Linked DNA regions of Homo sapiens. The protein of the gene in region 2 binds, or shares a complex with, the protein of the main gene of each other region. Each region holds a gene or a part of one and is shown on either strand. Other genes may lie near its edges.

What was found.
Region 1: LSM7 (region 2) and SART1 share a complex: the UniProt entries of both Homo sapiens proteins name them as parts of the U4/U6-U5 tri-snRNP complex.
Region 3: LSM7 (region 2) and SNRPD3 share a complex: the UniProt entries of both Homo sapiens proteins name them as parts of the U4/U6-U5 tri-snRNP complex.
Region 4: LSM7 (region 2) and USP39 share a complex: the UniProt entries of both Homo sapiens proteins name them as parts of the U4/U6-U5 tri-snRNP complex.

The regions. Positions count from the first base shown.
Region 1 is NC_000011.10:65,971,734-65,978,777, reverse strand, and holds part of SART1 (U4/U6.U5 tri-snRNP-associated protein 1), read right to left. Parts: intron 2,400-7,044; coding exon of another isoform or gene 2,384-2,399; coding exon 2,210-2,383; intron 2,123-2,209; coding exon 2,012-2,122; intron 1,765-2,011; coding exon 1,677-1,764; intron 1,216-1,676; coding exon 1,125-1,215; intron 1,015-1,124; coding exon 879-1,014; intron 179-878; coding exon 89-178; intron 1-88. UniProt on the Homo sapiens protein: Plays a role in mRNA splicing as a component of the U4/U6-U5 tri-snRNP, one of the building blocks of the spliceosome. May also bind to DNA.
Region 2 is NC_000019.10:2,320,982-2,325,591, forward strand, and holds the end of LSM7 (U6 snRNA-associated Sm-like protein LSm7), read right to left. Parts: intron 3,216-4,610; coding exon 3,144-3,215; intron 842-3,143; coding exon 699-841; 3' UTR 540-698; downstream 1-539. UniProt on the Homo sapiens protein: Plays a role in pre-mRNA splicing as component of the U4/U6-U5 tri-snRNP complex that is involved in spliceosome assembly, and as component of the precatalytic spliceosome (spliceosome B complex).
Region 3 is NC_000022.11:24,558,969-24,566,012, reverse strand, and holds part of SNRPD3 (small nuclear ribonucleoprotein Sm D3), read right to left. Parts: intron 1-7,044. UniProt on the Homo sapiens protein: Plays a role in pre-mRNA splicing as a core component of the spliceosomal U1, U2, U4 and U5 small nuclear ribonucleoproteins (snRNPs), the building blocks of the spliceosome.
Region 4 is NC_000002.12:85,647,143-85,649,784, forward strand, and holds the end of USP39 (ubiquitin carboxyl-terminal hydrolase 39), read left to right. Parts: intron 1-787; coding exon 788-874; intron 875-1,618; coding exon 1,619-1,666; 3' UTR 1,667-2,141; downstream 2,142-2,642.

The DNA.
Region 1 (7,044 bases), on a different chromosome or scaffold from region 2:
CACTCAGAAAGGGCTGCAGCAGGCCCCACACACCAGCCACCCCTGCCCCGGCAGGCACAGGGCCCCCCACATCCCCAAGGGCACCCACCGCCTCCTCGTCCAGCTTCTTCATCCGCCGCTCTGTCTTCATCTTGCCTGAGCCCTTGCCATGGAAGCGGTGCGACAGCTGCCGGAAAGCCTGGGGACGCGGGGCATGAGAGGAGATGCAGGGCCCTGGGTGGGGCCGGAGCCACCTGTGCCCACAAGGTGTATAATAACAGGGCGGGTGTTGATTGACCCCAATGCCAGGCCTGGGGTGCAGTGGGAAGGGGATGGGAAAAGAGCACAGACGCTGGCACCCTGCAGGGCCCCAGCAGAGGCCGGGAGACCAGCTTGGCTAGTGGATGCGCTGCCATGGGGGCAGAGCATGGGGAACCTGGAGACCTGCCACGCAGGGGCTGGGCCTGGACGCTGGGGCTGGGGCTGGGGCTGCAGGGAGACAAACCCCAGAGAGCAAGGGGGCAGCTGAGTGGTAGGGCAGGACGGTCGGGCGGCCTACGAGAGTGCTGGAAGGGCCTGGACGCTGGAATGGCCCTGCGGGCCAGGAAAGCCAGTGAAGGGCTCACGCAGGTGAGGACAGGAGGGCAGAGGTCCCGAGTGCCTGTCTGACCCTCCTGCCAGGCTTGCAAAGAGACTGCTGTGCCCACTAGAGACAAACTGAGGCACAGCCTTCCTCAGCCCTGAGGGCCCCCTCCCCATCCGTGGCATTCACCAGGCCCCCAGCCAGAGGCTGGTGGAGCCAGGACCCTGGGGCATTGCATGGCCCGGGGCATTGCATGGCCCTGGGCTTGGCCTCCCTGTGGCAGGCCGGGCCTCCGCCTGCAAAAGGCCCTGCTCACCTCCTTGGGTGTGAGTTTCCGGCCCGTCTCATCCACGTATTCGATCTTAACGTCGGGTTTGTAGCCGTCCTTCTCCTTGAAGTCCTGTGTGAAGCCTCGGTATTCCTCCCTCCGGCTGTACTTGTCATCGATGGCCCTGGCCCGAGACAGAGGAGGCCTTAGTGTGAGGAGCTGCCGCCTGCTGTGGTCCCGAAGCTCCAAGCTGGCACAGGCCCCTCAGCCCTGCACAGGCCCCACCACACTCACATCTTATCCTCGATGCAGTACACGGCTGAGGGCAGCGACTTGTTGGGGGCCTTCACCCGGGCCACCTTCTGCACTGTGGTCTCCAGCAGCCCTAGGGATGGAGGGGTTGTGAGACTCCCAACCCCTCGAGAGCCACAGCTCCAGGGCCGCCTGAGAAGGCAGAGCAGGCCCTGTGGGGGCACCTCCCTTTCCTTGCCTCTGGAAAGCCATCAGGCCTGTTCTACAGGCAAAGCAAAGATGCAGAAATGAGCCCCTTGCCAAGGGTCACTGGCCAGGGAAATGGCAGAGCTGGGGTCCTAACACCAGGGCTCTCTGTGCCACAGCTGGAACAGTTTCAACTCCCCTCTCCTTCCCCAAGCAGGTGTGGAGCCTCAAAGGCAGAGCAGACGGACAGATGCCACAGTGGAGGGGAAGGAGTGGCTCTGGGCCGGACAGCTGGCTCCAGCATTGGGACTGAGAGAAAGGGGCAGCAGAGGGGACCGGAGGGGGCCCTGCCTGCACCTGCAGCAGCACCCAAGCCCACCCAAGTCATGGCTGCCCTGAGCTCCCTACCTTTGTTCTGACACAGGAGCAGGGCAGCTGCCAGCCCCCTATTCACGATCGGTTCCTCGTCCAGGATGGTGGTGGAGGAAGCAGAGAACTACGGGACACGTGGCGGGGGTGGTTAGCAGGCCATACCGGCTCTTCTCAGCCCCACCCACTGGTCACCACCTGCCAGGCACCAGCCCTCCACAACATTTAATTTCCTCATTTACTCCTCAGATCGCCCTGGGAGGTCTGCAGAGCCCACTCTGGATGAGGAGGCTGAGGCTCTGGACACCGAGCCCGGTGCTCATCTCCAGCTTGAGCACCCCCAAACGCCCACCCCCCAGCGGCGCGGCCCTCACATCCTGCTGCTGCTTCTCCTCGTCCAGGTTCACCGTGCTCCAGCCGATGTTCTCCTCCCCGTCAGATTCGGAGCCACCGTTGGCTGAGCGCTCCTCATCCCGTTCAAAGTCCTGGGGCACAAAAGACCAGGGTCGGCCCAGGCCCCAGCCAGCCCACCCAGCCGAGGGAAGCAGAGGGCGGGGCCGCCCCAGACGCACCATGAGCTCCTCCTGCTCCTCGCGATTGCCAGCCAGCCCGTAGGTGGGGATCTCCCCCAAGGTGCGGCAGAACTCGGACGTGGCGTTGAACACGATGGCCCCCTTCCGCTCGGGATCCTCATCCTCCTCCCAGCCCCGCTGGCGAGACTCCAGCTTCTTCACAATCTCCACCACCTGGGGGAGGGAGCGGCTGTGGGCAAACCCAGCAGTTTCTGGGGTGATGCCATTGAGACCCAGGAACCTAAGGGTCCTCCCTGGCAGCAGCCAGACAGGCCACGCCCACAGCCCATGCAGGCCCAGCTGCTATCTGCCGCCTAACTCCACTCTGCACCTCTTTCACTGGGGTCACTCTTCTGCTCCAAACCCATCAATGGGTTTGGATGCCCTTTGAATGAATACCCAACATCCTACAGGGCCTTCCTGACCAGGCCTGTGCCAATCCCCCTCCAAAGCCCCTCACACACTACCTCAGCCTCAAACTCCTTCCTCCAGGCTCCCTCCTGCCACCTGCCCCTCCCCCGACAAACTCCGGTTTCAGGACTCTAGACAGCACTTCTAGAACCCGCAGGGTGGTGAGGTGGCCCACGCTTTTGACTTCCCACAGCCCAGCTTCTCGCTTCCTGCTTCACCAAGAAAGCAGGTTCCGTGACATGGGAAGAGAACTCACTCATGCTGCCAGCACTGAATCCAGCGACCCCCACACGGGCACCAGCACCCTCTGCTTTCCCTCCTGTCGCAGATGCCCAGCCACACACAATGATTACCATCTCCCCTCTTTAAAAAACTTCTCCCTCAACCCTGCAGCCCAGACAGCAAAGTCCTCACTCCTCAGTGAAGGTTCGAGTCACTATGTCCACTTCTGCACCCCTCTTTCATTTTATATTACATTCATTTTTTTAAAAAAATCTTCTGAGGCGGGTGGACTGCTTGAGTTCCGGAGATCGAGACCAGCCTGGGCAACATACCCAAATCCCATCTCTACAAAAAACATAAAAATTAGACATTGTGGTCACACACGCCCATAGTCCCAGCTACTGGGGAGGCTGAGGTGGGAGTACTGCTTGAGCTTGGGAGATCAAGGCTGCCAAGATCACACCACTGCACTCAAAAGAGTGGGCAAGAGTGAAACCCCGTCTCGAAAAAAAAAAAAAAAAAAAATTCTTCCAGGGGCCGGGTGGTTGCTCACATCTATAATCCTAGCACTTTGGGAGGCCGAGGCTGGAGGATCACTTGAGCCCAGGAGTTCGAGACCAGCCTGGACAATAAGGTGAAGCACAGTCTCTACAAAAAACACAAAGATCAACCAGGCATGGTGGTGTATGCCTGTAGTCTCAGCTACTTGGGAGGCTGGGGTGGGTGGATTGCTTGAGCCTGGAGGCCGAGGCTATGGTGAGCCGTGATCTTGCCACTGCACTCAAGCCTGGGCAACAGAGCAATACCCTGTCTCCAAAAAAAAAAAAAAAAAAAGTCTTCCAGGACATCCAGGAACATTTGTTTGTTTGTTTGTCTTTTAATTTTTATTTCTTTTTGAGACAGAGTCTCACTTTGTCGCCCAGGCTGGAGTGCAGTGGCGCGATCTCAGCTCACTGCAAGCTCCGCCTCCTGGGTTCACAGCATTCTCCTGCCTCAGCCTCCCGAGTAGCTGGGACTACAGGCGCCCGCCACCACGCCCAGCTAATTTTTTTGTATTTTTTTTCAGTAGAGATGGGGTTTCACCGTACTAGCCTGGATGGTCTCCATCTCCTGACCTCGTGATTTGCCTGCCTTGGCCTCCCAAAGTGTTGGGGTTACAGACGTGAGCCACCGCGCCTGGCCAGGAACACTTATTTTTTAATGAACATTGTAAACATAAAACGAGGTATATCTAATGCATCATATGCTACTTATTTATTGAGACCATCTCACTCTATCACCCATGCTGGAGTGCAATGGGGCGATATAGGCTCACTGCAACCTCCACCTCCCAGGTTCAAGTGATCCTCCTCCCTCAGCCTCCTAAGTAGCTGGGACTACAGGTGCATGCCTCCACAACCAGCTAATTTTTGTATTTTTAGTAGAGACAGGGTTTCACCATGTTGCCCAGGCTGGTCCCAAAACCAGCTTCAAGTGATCCACTCACCTCAGCCTCCCAAAGTGCTGGGACTATAGGTGTGAACCACCACACCCGGCTGATATGGTTTTTTTTTTTTTTTTTTTTGAGACAGAGTCTCACTGTTGGCCAGGCTGGAGTGAAGTGGCACGATCTTGGCTCACTGCAACCTCCACCTCTCGGGTTCAAGTGATTCTCCTGCCTCAGCCTCCTGAGTAGCTGGGATTACAGGCATGCACCACCATGCTCGGCTAATTTTTTTTTTTTTTTTTTTTTTTTTTAGTAGAGAGGGGGTTTCACCATGTTAGCCAGGATGGTCTCAATCTCCTGATCTTGTGATCCACCTGCCTAGGCCTCCCAAAGTGCTGATATTACAGGTGTGAGCCACCGCACCCAGCGGCTGATATAGTTTTTAAAACATTAACTAAACACACACCCATGTCCCTCTCCCTGGGGCTGGGGCAGCATCACTAATGCCCTGCCCAGACTTGAGTGTCCCCTCCCCATCCATGGTCATGACTCACCGGCTTGTCTTCATGGCTTTAGCACATAAGGACCTGCCCCTGAACAGTTATTTTGTTGTGTATTAATTATTCTATAACCTGAGTCACACTGTATGACTCTTCTGTGATTTGTTTTGTAAAAAAATCTGTGCCCCTGAGAGTAACCCTGATGCACACGGCTGTAGCTCATCAGTTTCCACTATGGAATCACAGCCCGTGAGCTGGATGCTCCTTGATCTGGCTCTCTAGCCCACTGAGGATGGACTTTTTTTGTCCCAAGTACTGCGGCTGCAGGCCCACTGACAATGTCTCCTGGTGCACATGGGCACACTCGGGAGAGGTGTGGGGTGGGCCCCGGGCACGCACACATTCCCTCTCATCTGATTAGACTCCTGCCCATGGCTGTGAGTAGCGTGGCTGAGGACTCTGGCCGCTCCATGTCCTTTACTCCTACTCGCTACTGTCAGGCTTGGACCTTTCTGCGGAATTGTTGGCAGGTGGCAGGTGCCTCACTGTTTTGGTTCACCTTTCTGTGATCCCTCCTGAAACTGGATTCACCGGGTATTTTCCTGGTGAGTTAGGCTTTCTCTTCTGTGAACTGCCTGTCTTATCTACATCTTTCGCCTATTTTCCTGTTGTGTTGATTTGTTTTGTCTGTTTGTATACTCTTGACACCAACCCATTCTTGGTGGTATATATGGGCAAATATCTTCTCTTTTTGGTCTGCCTTTTTATATTCTTCATGGTATGTTTTGTAAAAAAACAAAAAACAAAAAACTTACGTTCTCAATTTCTTTTTTTTTGAGACGGAGTCTTGCTCTGTCACCCAGGCTGGAGTGCAGTGGTGCGATCTCGGCTCACTGCAAGCTCCGCCTCCTGGGTTCACACCATTCTCCTGCCTCAGCCTCCCTAGTAGCTGGGACTACAGGTGCCCGCCACCACGTCTGGTTAATTTTTTTGTATTTTTTTTAGTAGAGACAGGGTTTCACTGTGTTGACCAGGATGGTCTCATCTCCTGACCTCGTGATCCGCCCGCCTTGGCCTCCCAAAGTGCTGGGATTACAGGCGTGAGCCATCGCGCCCGGCCACGTTCTCAATTTCTATGTAGTTACACGTTCACTTTTTTCTTCATGGTTTCTTGAAGAAACTCACCCATGGAACCTGTGGGTTTCTTGGTTTTTTTTTTTTTTTGAGACAGGATCTTGTTCTATCACCCAGGCTATCATAGCTATCTGTGATATAGTCAGCTATAGTCTATCATAGCTGACTATAACCTCGAACTCCTAGATTCAAGCAATCCTCCTGCCTTAGCCTCCGGCGTAGCTGAGGCTTCAGACACATGCTACCATGCCCAGCTAATTAAAAAAACATTTTTAGAGATGGGGTTGGTAGGGGGGGTGGTCTTGCTGTGTTGCCCCAGGCTGGTCTCAAATTCCTGGCCTCAAGCAATTCTCCTGCCTTGGCTATGCTGACAACTTAAAAAATCTTTTCTACCAAAAAGTTATAAATGTAATTTCCTTAATTTGATTCCGAAATGTGAAGTTTTTACTTTGAAGTTCTTAATCTATCTGCAAGGTGTGAGGTATAAACCCAATTTCATTTTTTCCCCAAATAGATAACTGACTGTCCCACGCCCACTCGCTGCACTGACGAGCGACTCTTCCCACTGGGACACGATTCTGTCTCGGGGCCCCGCTGTCTGGTCTCTCTGTTCTGTTAGTCTATCCTTATGCAATCCCACACTGCCACAATGCCCCTACTTTATCCAATTTCAGAATCATTTTCCAGCTTCCAAAATAATCCCTATTGGGATTTTTACTGGAGTTGCATTTAACCTAGAAATGAACTACATGAGATGGACATCTTGACAATATATTGTCCTATCTAGGAATTGTGTAACCCCTAAATTCATATCGGGAAGCCCTAACCCCCAATGACTGTATGTGGACAGAGCACCTTTAGGAGGTGGAAATTGCAGTGAGCTGAGATAGAGTCACTGCACCCCAGCCTGGGTGACAAAGTGAGACACTATCACAAAACAAAACAACCCCTCAATTCCAAGGATCCTTTCTGTTCTCTCCAGCCTTTCTTTCTAGCTCATTGACTGTATTAACTTCAATCCAGTAATTCTTCAACCACATCACGACTCCAGGCCCTGTCCTCACACCCATCATTCTCTGTTATGTCCCTCATTACCCAGTTTAGACTCAGGGGGAAATCAACAGAACCTCTCCTTTGTGAAA
Region 2 (4,610 bases):
GCTGGCTGTAGGTGACCAGTCCATCTCACAAGCGGGGGCAGCAGCGGGGGCAGGTGTTAGCTGCATGGGCTGTGGGGTCTGGCCTCTTGATGCACCCCGGCTCCTGATGCACCCCAGCCTCCTGATGCACCCCGGCTCCTGATTCACCCCAGGTCCTGACACACCCAGCTCCTGACACACCCAGCCTCCTAATGCACCCCAGCCTCCTAATGCACCCCGGCTCCTGACGCACCCCGGCCTCCTGATGCACCCCGGCCTCCTGATATACCCCAGCCTCCTGATGCATCCCGGCTCCTGATGCACCCCAGCTCCTGCTGTCTTGGGGGCGGGCCTGGGGTTCCACAAGCCCCTCATCAGACTGAGGTTCCAAACTCGCCTGTCTCGGCCTTGGCTGTGCCCGCCTTGGTCACTCCTGAACCCTCACCCCCAGGAGGGACCATGGCTGGTATTTGATGAGCTCCAGGGACTGAGTCCAATCTCCAGGAATCCAGGTTTCCTCAGAAGGTCAAGGGAAAAGCAAGATTCGGGGCTCAGACACATTGAGGTTTGCAATTTTATTAAGAAAACAAAAATTCAACCTATACAAAAAGGAAAATGCTTCCGTTCCAGGAGGCGGTACTGCGGTGGGAGCAGCAGCCAAGTCCGCGGGAAACCGAGCTGCTCGGGCCTGCCCTGCACCCCCCGCGCCCCCGGCCAGGCTAGGCGTCCTGCTGCTGGATGAAGGGGTTGGGGATGGCCTCCATGCCGTCCTGCGGGCAGATTAGCACCACGGACGTGCCCCGGCACACCACGAGGCCCAGCTGCCGGGTGTCCTCCGTGAGCTTGTACTGGTCGTCAGGGTCTGGGGAGGAGCAGATAGAGAGGACTGAGGGACCTCCAGGAAGCCTCCGAGACCCCCCACCCACCCAAGACCCTCGCTCCGACCTCCCCACCTGCACCCTGCAGGCGCCACGAGCACGCAGGGACCTCAGACGGGATGCGCTCTGTGGGGCAGGTCCCCGGCTCCCACGGCTGAGACCCATGGCCCCTAGAGACCAGTGGCAGCTCCACAGACAGCAGCCACAGCCCTCCCTCACTCCACAAACCATGGGAACAAGAAGGCCCAGGTGATAGCCGGCTACCCCGCGTCTCAGAGCTCACTGGGGCCCAGGCACCAGGGCCGGGAACCAGGTTATCAGATGGCCGGCCAGAATACAGGCACCCTGGGCCTCCTGGTCTCTGCAAGGTCCCTGGAGCCCTAGGGGGCCAATATTCACCCTATAACAAAGAGGCTGGGGGCCGGGCGCGGTGGCTCACGCCTGTAATCCCAGCACTTTGGGAGGCCAAGGCAGGCGGATCACGAGGTCAGGAGATCGAGACCATCCTGGCTAACTTGGTGAAACCCCGTCTCTACTAAAAAATACAAAAAAATTAGCCGGGCGTGGTGGCAGGCACTTGGAGTCCCAGCTACTCGGGAGGCTGAGGCAGGAGAATGGTGTGAACCCAGGAGGCGGAGCTTGCAGTGAGCCGAGATCGCGCCACTGCACTCCAGCCTGGGTGACAGAGCGAGATTCCATCTCAAAAAATAAAAAAATAAAGAGGCTGTTCATGTGGGGTGGGGACCATGTGGGCTGGCACCCCAGGGAAGTGCCAGCAAGCCCAAGACAAGCTCTCAAGAGGCTGAAGGCGATTAAAACTCCTCACTACTGTGGTCCTGCAGTGGTGGGGGCATGGGAGAACCATGGGGCCCAGGTTTTTAAACTTTTTTTCAGACACCAGGTCTTGCTCTGTTGCTCAGGTTGGAGTGCAGCAGTGCAATCACAGCTCACAGCCTCAACCTCCTGGGCTCAAACAATCCTCCTGCCTTAGCCTCCTGAGTAGCTGGGGCCACAGGCACATGTACCGCCATGCCTGGCTAATTACATTTTTTTTTTTTTTGTAGAGACAGGGTCTCACTATGTTGCCCAGGCTGGTCTCAAATTCCTGGGCTCGAGTGATCCTCCTGTCTTGGCCTCCCAAAGTGCTGGGATTACAGGCATGAGCCACCATGGCCAGCTACAAGAATAAATCTTGTCTCAGTATCAATGGATCCAAGGGGCAAGACCCTCTCTCTCCTAAGTCCTGACATTCCCCCAGTGCCCGGGCCGGGATGGGGACTTGCCAGCTGGGGACTTGCCGCAGGAGCTTCTGGGGGAGAGTCTGAGGACTTGGCGGCCTCACTGGGGAGGGGAGCGAGCGGGGGCAGGGAAATGAGGGAGGGTCCTCTGGGGAGGAGACAGGGACCCTGCGTTCATAGCGGGAATTAACAAGGGCAGAAGAGGAAAGGCGCCCGAGAGGAGCCCCACGGCACGCTCACTACCCCACAGCAAGGCTGCTCTCCGCTGGGCGCCACAGCTCACGCCTGGAACCCCAGCACTGTGGGAGGCTGAAGCAGGAGGATGGCTTGAGCCCAGGAGTTCGAGACCAGCCCGGGCAACACAGTGAGACCTCAGCTTATCTCTTTTTTTTGAGACGGAGTCTCACTCTGTTACTCAGGCTGGAGTGCAGTTGCACCATCTCGGCTCACTGCAACCTCCGCCTCCCAGGTTCAAGCGATTCTCCTGCGTCAGCCTCCCGAGCAGCTGGGATTACAGGCATGCGCCACCACACCCAGCAATTTTTTTGCATTTTTAGCGGAGACGGGGTTTCACCATGTTGGTCAGGCTGGTCTCAAACTCCTGACCTCAAGAGATCCTCCTGCCTTGGCCTCCCAAAGCGCTGGGATTATAGGTGTGAGCCATTGTGCCTGGCCTCTCACGTCACCAATTTAACAAAAATTAAAATAATAAAACATTTAAAAAGGTTGTCCTCTAACTGTGCCGGGCGCCCCGTCAGTGTGTAGAGACCAGTGGGTGAGCTGGCAGCTCCCGTCTCTCCAGGCCCCACAACAATGGGGTTTCCTGCTTTGTGAGGACGTCTAGGACCAGTGAGCGCTCAAGCCCGTCCATCGGCCGCCACGAGGCTTCACGTTGGTAACTCAGAGGTTTTGTGGGTTTGAGAGAAGAAGAGCCAGCAGGGAGCCCCACGGCTGCCCCCCTCGTCCCACTGCCCCCCTCGTCCCGCTGCCCCCCTCACCCCACTATCCCCCTCGTCCCGCTGCCTGCCTCGGCCGCCACCCCACTCACCTCGCATGTACTCAATGGTGCCGTCCAGCACAAGGTTGAGGAGTGGGTCGAAGCCCTTCAGGATTCCACTGGCTTGGAGAAATCACCGGGGGAGAGAAAAGAGAAGGCATGAGATCCGTCCTGGGCGCAGGGCCCGCCCCAGCATGGCCCAGGTATGGGGCTAACTGCTCCAGGGATGGAGGACTGAGGGTAGGAGAGGGCTCCCGGGAGTGGCCGATGACAGCCGCCTCCAGAGTGATCTCCACCACAGGCAGCAGACCACGTCTGCGGGGGGCCAGATGGCAAACACTTCTGGCCGTGTGGGCCACAGGGTGCCGGTCACAGCTGCTGGCTCGGGCTGCCTGGGTGGAGGCAGCTTCGGTAATGAGTCCATGTGTGGCTGAACTGCGGCCGGTCAGCTCTACTCACAGGCACTGAACTGTGAATTTCATGTAATTTCCACATCGTGAGACAGTCTTGTTTTGATCCCTTTCTAGCTATTTAAAAGTCATAAAAACAATTCTCAGCTCAAAAGCAGCAGCAAAACAGGCGGCGGCACGTGTACGCGGTGGGACCACCAGCCAGGAAGAGGAGCGAGGCTGGCGCAGGCCACAGCGCGGATGCGCCTGAGGACGCACCTGAGGACGTCACGCTCAGTGAGAGACGCCAGACACAGAAGGCTGCGCACCGTGAGATCCCATTTCTATGAAATGTCCAGGACAGGCCAATCCACAAAGACAGGGAAGGGATGCGTGGGTGCCAGGGCCAGGGATGGGACAGGCAGTGATGGCTGATGGGGACAGGGCTTCCTGTAGGGGAGACAGAGTGCTCCGCTCTGACAGCGGTGATGACTGCGCTGCCTGACCTGTGCTGAGTCCCTCAGTGAGTTCACGGAATACAAAAGAACAAATCCCAGCCCTGCTGCTTAGGGCTTGCGGGGAGCAGGCAACAGAGATGCTCTGAGACCCAGGTGCAAAGGCTTCGGGGGCTGAGACGGTCTCTGTGGCTTCTCTCTCCACGCTGCCTGCCCCACCCCTCAAGCTTCGCCGCCTTGGGCCACAACTTGCCAACTTAGGTTAGGGCTCTCTGACCCGGTGGTGATCTCTGCCATCTGATCCTGCTCCGCAGTGTCTGGTGACACTGAGAAGGGTGAAGGGGGAGCTGTGTGTCCCCAGCAGAGGCCAGCCCACCCTCTCTGCCTGGGACTCCCCTCCACTGCCCTGCAGGCTCCTGCAGCCGAGGCCCAGCAGCAGCTCCACCTCTGCGCTCACTGAGGGGCGTCCCGCAGCCACCCCCTCCCTGCTCTCCTTCTTACCCCTGTCATCTTTCAGGTGCTTCCTCCAGACACCAACCCACAGCCCTTACGGTGCTGCCCTCTGCACGCCCACGCCAATCTCAGGAAGCAGGCACCACCAATCTCGGGAAGCAGGCACCACCAATCTCGGGAAGCAGGCACCCCGGGCATTATTCTGCCTGCCTGTCTCCTCC
Region 3 (7,044 bases), on a different chromosome or scaffold from region 2:
CCAAGACAGAAACTGGATACAACTCAGGCTCACCTGAATCTGACTGACAATTAAAATGTGTTTTGGGGCTGGGCGCGGTGGCTCATGCCTGTAATCCCAGCACTTTGGGAGGCCGAGGTGGGTGGATCACCTGAGACCAGTCTGGCAAACACGGTGAAACCCTGGCTCTACTAAAAATACAAAAATTAGCCGGGTGTGGTGGCAGGTGCCTGTAGTCCCACCTACTCGGGAGGCTGAGGCAGGAGAATCACTTGAACCCGGGAGGTAGAGGTTGCAGTGAGCCAAAATCACGCCACTGTATTCCAGCCTGGGCAACAGAGCAAGACGCCGTCTCAAAAAACAAAAAACAAACCAAACAAACAAAAAACGTGTTTTGGGGACTGTGCCACACTCATGACTCTGTAGAAGACACAAAATAGGCCTAAAGACCTATAGGTGAGATCCAGCTCTGCCATTTGTCAGAAGTGTAACCCTAGGTATATCTCCAGGCTTCCCTGAGCCTCCGTTCCCTCAACTACAAAGCTGAGTTTTGAAAATACAAGACAACAAAGCCAACAGTTACTGAGCACTTATTAGACATCAAGTGCTGGCCCAGGTGATTTCCCCACGGCAGCTCATGTTACCCCACAAAATCCTACAAGGTAAAGAGATGAAGTGACATAGCCATTCAGAGGCAGATCTGTCCCCAGAAACCCATGCCCTTTCCCTCTATTCTCCTGCTTGAGGTCACACCACGCTTACATGGCCTGGCTGGAGTTTGAACCCAGTTCTTTCTAACTCACACTCTTAACCACTGCACATTTCCTGAAATTGTTAAAAAGCAAATCAGGCCAGGTACAGTGGTTCATGTCTGTAATCCCAGCACTTTGGGAGGCCAAGGTGGGAGGACTGCTTGAGGTCAGGAGTTTGAGACCAGCCTGGGAAATGTAACAAGATCCTATCTCTACAAAAATTTTTAACAATTAGCCAGGTGTGGTGGTGCATGCCTGTGGTCCCAGCTACTTGGGAGGCTGAGGTGGGAGGATGGCTGGAGCCCAGGAGTTCAAGGCTGCAGTGAGCTATGATTATGACACTGCATTCCAGCCTGGGCAACAGAGTAAGACCCTGTCAAAAAAAAAAAAAAAAAAATGAACAAGGCAAAGTATGTCTAAATGCTGTCTCTATTGCCTAATACATAATAGAGACTCAGTACATGCTAAATCTGATTGACAGCTAAAATGTGTTTTGGGAGCTGTGCCACTGCTAAGCCACACTCCCTCCAGCACAGGGGCACATCTCACTCCTTTCCTGACAGAAGCTGTTGCATAAGTCCGACAAGACTTAATCTAGGCATTTCCATAAATGAACTATGTCCTGGCTGAAGCAGGAGAGTCCAGTGTCCTCTGACTCCTATTTTAACCCTAACAACCAGGCTCACTACTGCTCTCGCTTTCCCTGTAGCACTGGCTAAGAACAGCTTGCTGTGGACAAAACCCCACAGTCTCACTGCACACATGCCTGCTAGAGCTTGCTAATAAGCCTGACCTGTGTTTGTATCACAAGCCCAAGGCAGCAACTTTTGAGTGAACCAGATCCTAATCAACTCCAGGCAGGAACACCCAGTTTAATCAACTTTCCTCAACAGCCACAATGAAACACATATGGTATAAGCCAGGTACCCAACTGAAATGACATCCTGAGGGGGAGAGAGAGAATCTTTGTAGCACAAAGTGGTGGGACTTTCTTAGATACCTGGGGCCAAGATGGAGAAAGCTAGCTCCAGGACTGTGAAGGTGTGTTGGGGTGTCTCAGGCCTGTCAATACACCAGAAATGCATTCTTTAGGACAATTTCACACATACACAAAGGCAGAGGTGCTTGGATGCCACTGCTATAATACGAATACCAACTAAGGCCATCTACCTATCTTTGTTCTTAGGAAATACAAAAGTATTATGGGGTAGAGGAGCATGATGAATGCAATCCACACACAAACAGTACAGGAAAAAAAAAGTATACGATAAGTTTAAAAAACTGGTTTTCCTTCAACCTAGAGGGCTAGGTGTCTAAAGAAATTCAATTACATTGAATTCAGAGATTTCAAAAACTTTCCTAGCAATAGTTATGGGCAATTTTCTGACCCAATCATGTGAGAGCTTCTTTTGGGTTCTCATTTTTATACAGTGACACAAGACCATATTCCATACAGAGACCAGTTTTCCAAAGATGGCTATTATATGCCAAAGCCAACAAAACAGATTTCAAACAGTCCCATCAGTGATTGGGTGGTCATGTTGAAGCCCCAAAAGCACAATGTCTGCTTGTGCAGAGCTCTACACCACATTCTCCCACCAAAACTTCTAAGAATTAAGTCATTTTGAATGTAGTGAAATGGGTTTGACCATTACTCTCTGTATTTGCTTGTATCATTTATAATTTGGGTCCATTTTTATAAAACTGGGGACATATTTTGGAGTATTGTTATTTTTCTCACTTATGCCAACAGCATTTTGACCAACATGCCATATCCTGCAGCTGATGCCCTATCCTGCAGCACTGGCCACCAGTGCTTGGCTTGCAGCTGTCGGAATGAGAAGGAGAACAAAAGCTCCCTGCCTTCCCAGCTTAACCTCAGATGCACACCCTCTGACCCGATAAGCACCATTTCAGGGACCTCATCCTGAGTTTCACATACACATATTTCCTCTTCTTCCTTTAAAAAAAAAAATATATATATATATACACACACACACACATATATATACATACATATATACATACATACACACATACACACACACACACACACACACACACACACACACACATATATGAGACAGGGTCTCACTGTGTTGCCCAGGGTGGTCCCAAACTCTTGGGATCAAGTGATCCCCCTGGCCCAGCCTCCCAAAGTGCTGGGATTACAGGCATGAGCCAATGTGCCTGGCCATATTTTGCATTTTCAAATGTCAAAAACAGTGCTAAGATAACAGGATACTTTAAAACTACTTGAGGGACCATAAAAGGGTATTTTGTATGGGGATGTTGTCGAGGATATCATCTAATAGTGTCTCCTGTATCTGAGTGCCAGGGAAATCCACACAATTGCTATTTTAACTTAAGAACACTATGCATTTTGGAACTGATGATCTTCCCTGCTTAATCTTACACTGGAATATACCTTTATTCAATGTACAGAGAGATTCAGGTTTACATTTCTGGATACTGACTGCTTGGCTTCATTTTACATTCTACCCCAGCTTACCTGCACCATGATCTATGCATCTACTTTTATCCTGCCATAGAATTTTTTTAATTTTAGAGATAGGGTCTTGCTCTGTCACCCAGGCTGGAGTGCAGTGGTGCGACCAGAGCTTAATGCAGCCTGAACTGCTGGGTGGGCTCAAGTGATCCTTTTTGCCTCAGCCTATGGAGTAGCTGGGACTACAGGCATAAGCCATCACATCCAGATAATATATTTTTTATTTTTGGAGATGGAGTCTTGCTCTGTCGCCCAGGCTGGAGTGCAGTGGCGCGATCTTGGCTCATTGCAAGCTCTGCCTCCTGGGTTCACGCCATTCTCCTGCCTCAGCCTCCCGAGTAGCTGGGACTACAGGCGCCCGCCACCACACCTGGCTAATTTTTTGTATTTTTTTTAGTAGAGACAGGGTTTCACCGTGTTAGCCAGGCTGGTCTCAATCTCCTGACCTCGTGATCTGCCCGCCTCAGCCTCCCAAAGTGCTGGGATTACAGGCGTGAGCCACAGTGCCCAGCCCCACATCCAGATAATTTTTAAACTTTTTTGCTTTTCAGAAGAGACAGGGTCTAACTATTTCTGAAAGAGGATAGAATAAAAAGTAAATACTAAAACCCCAAAACAGGGCAGGTGTGGCTTAGGCCTGTAATTCCAATACTTTGGGAGGCCAAGGTGGGAGGATCGCTTAAGTCCAGGAGTGCAAGACTAGCCTGGGCAACAGAGTGAGATCCTCTATTTATCTTTTCCGAATCGTTGTGGTGTGCTTTTGTGTGTGTGTGAGACTAGGTCTCACTCCGTCGCCCAGGCTGGAGTGCAGTGGCACTCCATAGCTCACTGCAGCCTTGACTTCCTGGGCTCAAGTAATCGTCCCAACTCAGCCTCCACCTGAATGGCTGGGACTACAGGCATGTGCCACCACATCCGTCTATTTTATTTTTTTTACAGACAAAGTCTTGTCATGTTGCCCAGGTTGGTCTTGAACCCCTGGGCTCAAGTGATCCTCCTGCCTCAGCCTCTCAAAGTGTTGGGATTATAGGAGTAGCCACCACATTTTGTCCCACCCCACTTTTATAACAGAAAATGTTATTGAACAAGCAAGGAAAAGTGCTAAGAGGATGTTCTCATTCCCAAAAGGCAGAATGACTGGATCTGGGAAGGACAGGCAAGCCTCACAGCCTGAGATGTGCTGAACAAACTAAACTGTGCTCAGAGTTCACCCACCACCAGCTTTAGCTACGCCACAGTCTGCTGGCTCTTATTCAATGTGCCTAGGTTTTGATAGACCCAGTGAGGCCTCTACATCCTGTTACAGGCTAAATTGTATCCCTCAAAAAAATTCATTGTTGAAGTCCTAATACCCAGCACCTCAGAATGTGATCATATTTAGAGACAAAAAATCTTTACAGGCCAGATGTGGTGGCTCATGCCTGTAATTCCAGGAGTTTGAGAGACTGAGGCAGCAGGATCACTTGTGGCCAGGAGTTTGAAACTGGCCTGAAAAACATATCAAGACTCCGTCTCTACAAAAAAATTTAAAAATTAGCCAGGTATGGTGGGGCACACTGGTAGTCCTGGATACTTAGAAGACTGAGGTGAAAAGATCTCTTGAGCCCAGAAGTCCAAGGCTGCCCATGAGCTATGATCAAACCACTGCACCCCAGCCTGGTCAACAGACCAAAGCTTAATCTCAAAAAAAAAAAAAAAAAAAAAAAAAGAAAAGAAAAAGGAAAAGAAAAAAAAGGCTGGGTGCAGTGGCTCATGCCTGTAATCCTAGCACTTTGGGAGGCCAAGGTGGGCAGATTGCCTCAGCTCAGGAGTTAGAGACCAGCCTGGGCAACATGATGAGCCTCCATCTCTATTAAAAATACAAAAAATATTAACATTAGTGGGGTACGGTGGCCCATGCCTATAACCCCAGCTACTCAGGAGGCTGAGGCAAGAGAGTTGCTTAAACCCGGGAAGACGGAGGTTTGCAGTGAGCTGAGATTGTGCCACTGTACTCCAGCCTGGACAACAGAGCAAGATTCTGTCTCAAAAAAAAAAAAAAAAAAAAAAAAAAAAAAGGCCAGGTGCAGTGGCTCACGCCTGTAATCCTAGCACTTGGGAGGCTGAGGCAAACTCAGGAGTTTGAGACCAGCCTGGGCAACATGGGGAAACCCTATCTCTACTAAAAATACGAAAAACTAGCTGGGCATAGTCCCAGCTACTCAGGAGGCTGAGGCATGAGAAGTGCTTGAACCCAGGAGGCAGAGGTTGCAGTGAGCTGAGATCATGCCACTGCACTCCAGCCTGGGCGACAGAGTGAGACTCTCAAAAAAAAAAAAAAAAAAAAAAAAAAAAAAAAAAAAAAGCAAGCAAGCTGGGCATGGTGGCTCACATCTGTAATCCCAGCACTTTGGGAGGTCGAGGCGAGCAGATCACAAGGTCAGGAGTTCGAGACCAGCCTGGCCAATATGGTGAAACCTGTCTCTACTAAAAATATAAAAATACAAAAATTAGCTGGGCATGGTGGCAGATGCCTGTAGTCCCAGCTACTCAGGAGGCTGAGGCAGGAGAATCGCTTGAACCTGGAAGGCAGAGGTTGCAGTGAGCCAAGATCGCGCCACTGCACTCCAGCCTGGGTGACAGAGCAAGACTGCAGCCTGGGTGACAGAGCAAGGCTCCATCTCAAAAAAAAAAAAAAAAAAATTCTTTATAAACATAATTATGTTAAGATGAAGTCATTAGAGTGGGCCCTAATCCTACATGCATGGTATCCTTATAAGAAGAATCTGGACAGAAACACTACAGAGGGAAGACCAAGTGAAGACACAGGAAGAGAGCCATATATAAGCAAGGAGAGAGGCCTGAAACAGATCCTTCCTTCACATTCCTCAGAAGAAACCAGCCTTGCCAACACCTTGATCTCAGACTTCCAGCCTTCAGAACTATGAGAAAATAAATTTGTGTTGTCTAAGCTGCCCAGTCTGTGAAACTTTGTTATGGTAGCACTAGCATACAAATACAAGCAGGGAGGCAGGTGGCTGTCCCCCACCATTGGTCAGGCATGGTTCCTTCTGAGGCCAAGGTGCTATTTTTATCCCTGATTTAGAGGAGGGACCAGAGGATGAAGGAGGTCCAAAGCTAAGCTCGCCCCAAGTCACCCTAGGGGGCAGGCTACAAGCTGATTCCAGGTCTGTCGGACACCAAGGTCTGTGCACTTTGTGTCATGTTGACTGCATCTCTGAATGGCTACCAAGGTTATCTGGTTAGACACCTTCACGTTACGGATGGGATGACAAAGGCCCTGGAAACCCAGCAAGTTGTCCAAATACATACAGCTAATTGAACAAACCCATTAAGCTTCACTAACCCAAGTCTTGCATTCTCCTCACCAAATTAAAGAACCTTAAAGTGGATGAGCATGCCTTAAGCCAGAGGACTGGATATATGAGAGATGATAAACTTATCTACCCTCAATAGATAAACTGATCTATTGACAGTAATGCAATAAACCTGAGTCACCAGAGGTCTACTTCTCTGCATTCAGGGAACTGACCAAGCTTGTCAACCTCGCAGGAAGATGACAGACGCTCAAAGCTACAGAAAAATCACAAATAAATGAACCCTGCAAACCAATGGATGGTCAGGATGCCTGACCGCGGTGTAAGGTGCTTTACCTCTCTGACCTTCTCATCTGGAAAAAAGCAATAGGTATCATATGTTGAACACTCACAGTATGTGAGGCACTGAGCAGCTATGGCACACATACAGCTCATCTGATCTTTGTAAAAGTCCTGGGGGTGTGGATATTACCCCTGTGGCAGTCTT
Region 4 (2,642 bases), on a different chromosome or scaffold from region 2:
CCTCCCAAAATGCTGGGATTACAGGCGTAAGCCCCTGTGCCCAGCCAGGAATGTCCATATTTAGGTTCTCTCAGTGGTTGACACTGTGTACCTCATAAGTGAGAATGTCTAGTCTGTCATTTCTGAGCAGGAAGGAGACATCATAGGTGATGATTAGATGGCTTCCTCTTTTCTCATCTTTAGTGTCCACTAAATTCCTTTTAAAAAGATGTACAGAAGTGTTTCAGACTCCATTGTACTTCAAGGGGCCAGGCGCAGTGGCTCATACCCATAATCCTAGCACTTTAGGAGGCTGAGGCGGGAGGATCTTTTGAGACCAGGAGTTAGCCTGGGCAACACAGTGGGACCCCATTGCTATTAAAAAAAAAATTAGCCAGTTTTAGTGGCACACACCTGTAGTTCCAGCTACCTGGGAGGCTGAGGGGAGGATCGCTTGAATCCAGAGGGTCAAGGCTGCAGTGAGCTGTGATTACACCACTGTAGTCCAGCCTGGGTGACAGAGTGAGACCCTGTCTCAAAAAAAAAAAAAAACAAAAAAACAACAAACAAAAAACAGTGCTTTAAAAAAATTCCCAACAGGAATTGAGTTTGCCATGATTGACACACCAAAAGTCCTATTAATTGAATCATGGCCAGAAGAAGTCATGTACCCTCTTCTTTATGACTGTTGCTGGATGATGTCTAGTGGCTGTTCTTCTAATTTTTCTAGTCTTGGCTATGATCCTTTCCTTCTACACCCTTTTGGTTTTAGAGAGCAGACTAACCCAGCTCTTCATACTTTCTGCAGGGGACAGGCAAATGGTATGAATTACAAGACCTCCAGGTGACTGACATCCTTCCCCAGATGATCACACTGTCAGAGGCTTACATTCAGGTGGGTTGGCCACAGGCTTAGTGAGCCACAAATAGGTGGCGTATGGGGCCAGTGAGAGGAGTGGGCCAAGGCAGGAAGAGGGATAGAGTTAGGACCTTGGTTGGAGGGCCAGGTACCTATTGGGAAGTACTTAGTAGTGAGTTGGGGGCAGAATGTATGGCCCTGAAAGTCAAGCAGAGATTTTCAGAAAAGAAGTATAAGGAAGTGTAGAAAATGTATGAGTGAGCAAAGAAAGTTGCGATTATGGCCAGGTTAGTTTTGCAGAAGTGTGCGGTCTGGTTTCGAGGAGGAAGAACCTAGACTCATCAGGGAGGCTGGCTAGAAGTCGACCACGAAGTGCTCCCCAGAGCCCCAGGCAGCTTTGTGACCCCACAGCGCTTTCTACTTGACGTTTGTTTTAGTGCCGGCCATATCGCTTTGCCTGTCTGTCCTCTCCATTGGATTGACCCATGGAGCACAGAGCATCTCTGTCTTCTCTTTATGTAACTGCCCTAGTACCTGGCAAAAGAAGGAAGATTGAGACAAAAGCCATAGCTTTGTAAGAAGAAAGTGATACCTCTCCTTCTAGAGATAACTTTTTTCTCCTCAGTGGCTGTAGCCACTGTAGCAGATTTCCAAATGGGGTATAGCAGATTTGTAAATGGGGTGACAAGTTGTCCATGGCCTGGCACAGAATAGGTATTTGATAAGTGTCTGTTGACTGAATGCCTCCTAGACTTCAGTTTGTGTTTTCATTTCTTACAGATTTGGAAGAGGCGAGATAATGATGAAACCAACCAGCAGGGGGCTTGAAGGAGGCGTCTAGGGCTTTGCTCCCAAGGGCTGTGGCTGATGATGGTAAATAAGAACACAGAAGCTGTAGCTGAACACAGGCTGGCTGGTGGGCTTCCTAGGCCAGCCCAGCTTGTATGGGTTCTGGCTACACCAGAGCACCAAGAGCCCACTTGCCTGGGATGGCCCCACACTGTCACTCAGCTGTTCTTTGATCATTTTTTTCTAGATTGATGCTCCTTTCTCCCATGCATTGAGCTCCCATCTAGCTTCAGCAGGGCAGAACCCTTCTCCAGATGTGTGTAACTTATGTCTTGAGTATCTGGGAGTAGTTGAAGAACAGATAATTCCTTCCAAACATCAAGCCTTGGGATTCTTGGAGCAAGCAGAAAGCCAGTAACTTCGCTCTGTTAGAGGTGGAGGATTTTCCTATGGTTCCCCCCATTTCCTGATTTGTATTTTTAGATGGATTAAATAGTCTCCTGTTTTTAAACCAGCCTCTTGTTTTATATCTTTTCCTTTGGTGGTTGGCTGAGGAAAATATTTTCCTTTTTAATCTTCACAAACTCTCTACCCTACAGTCTGACATCTGGTGCACATCACGCTCGCCCTTTCCTGTCAGCTTGTGGGTGGTGTGTCAGTTAGGATGCATTTGTTTCTAAGTAAAAAAATACCTGAGTCAAGGGGATACATTATTATTGTGCTTAACTAGAGGGCCAGAGGTGGGCAGTTTCCAGCTGCAGTGCAGGAATGAGTAAGGGAAGAGGAAAAAAAGGAAATAGGAAGCGCTTCTCACTACAGTGCAATTCTGAGGTGGTCTCAGCCAGTCCAGTGTGGAGCCCCAGGGCAAAGATTCCGTCAGACAATTCAGCAGAAATGGCTCCCATCAAGCTCAGTCGTGGGCTCTAGCAGCCTAGAAGAAGGGTGGCCTTGGCATGAGCACTGTGGCAGGTCCAAAGATATGGGAAGCAGCTGGAGGCAGCCAGTCAGCCCCAGC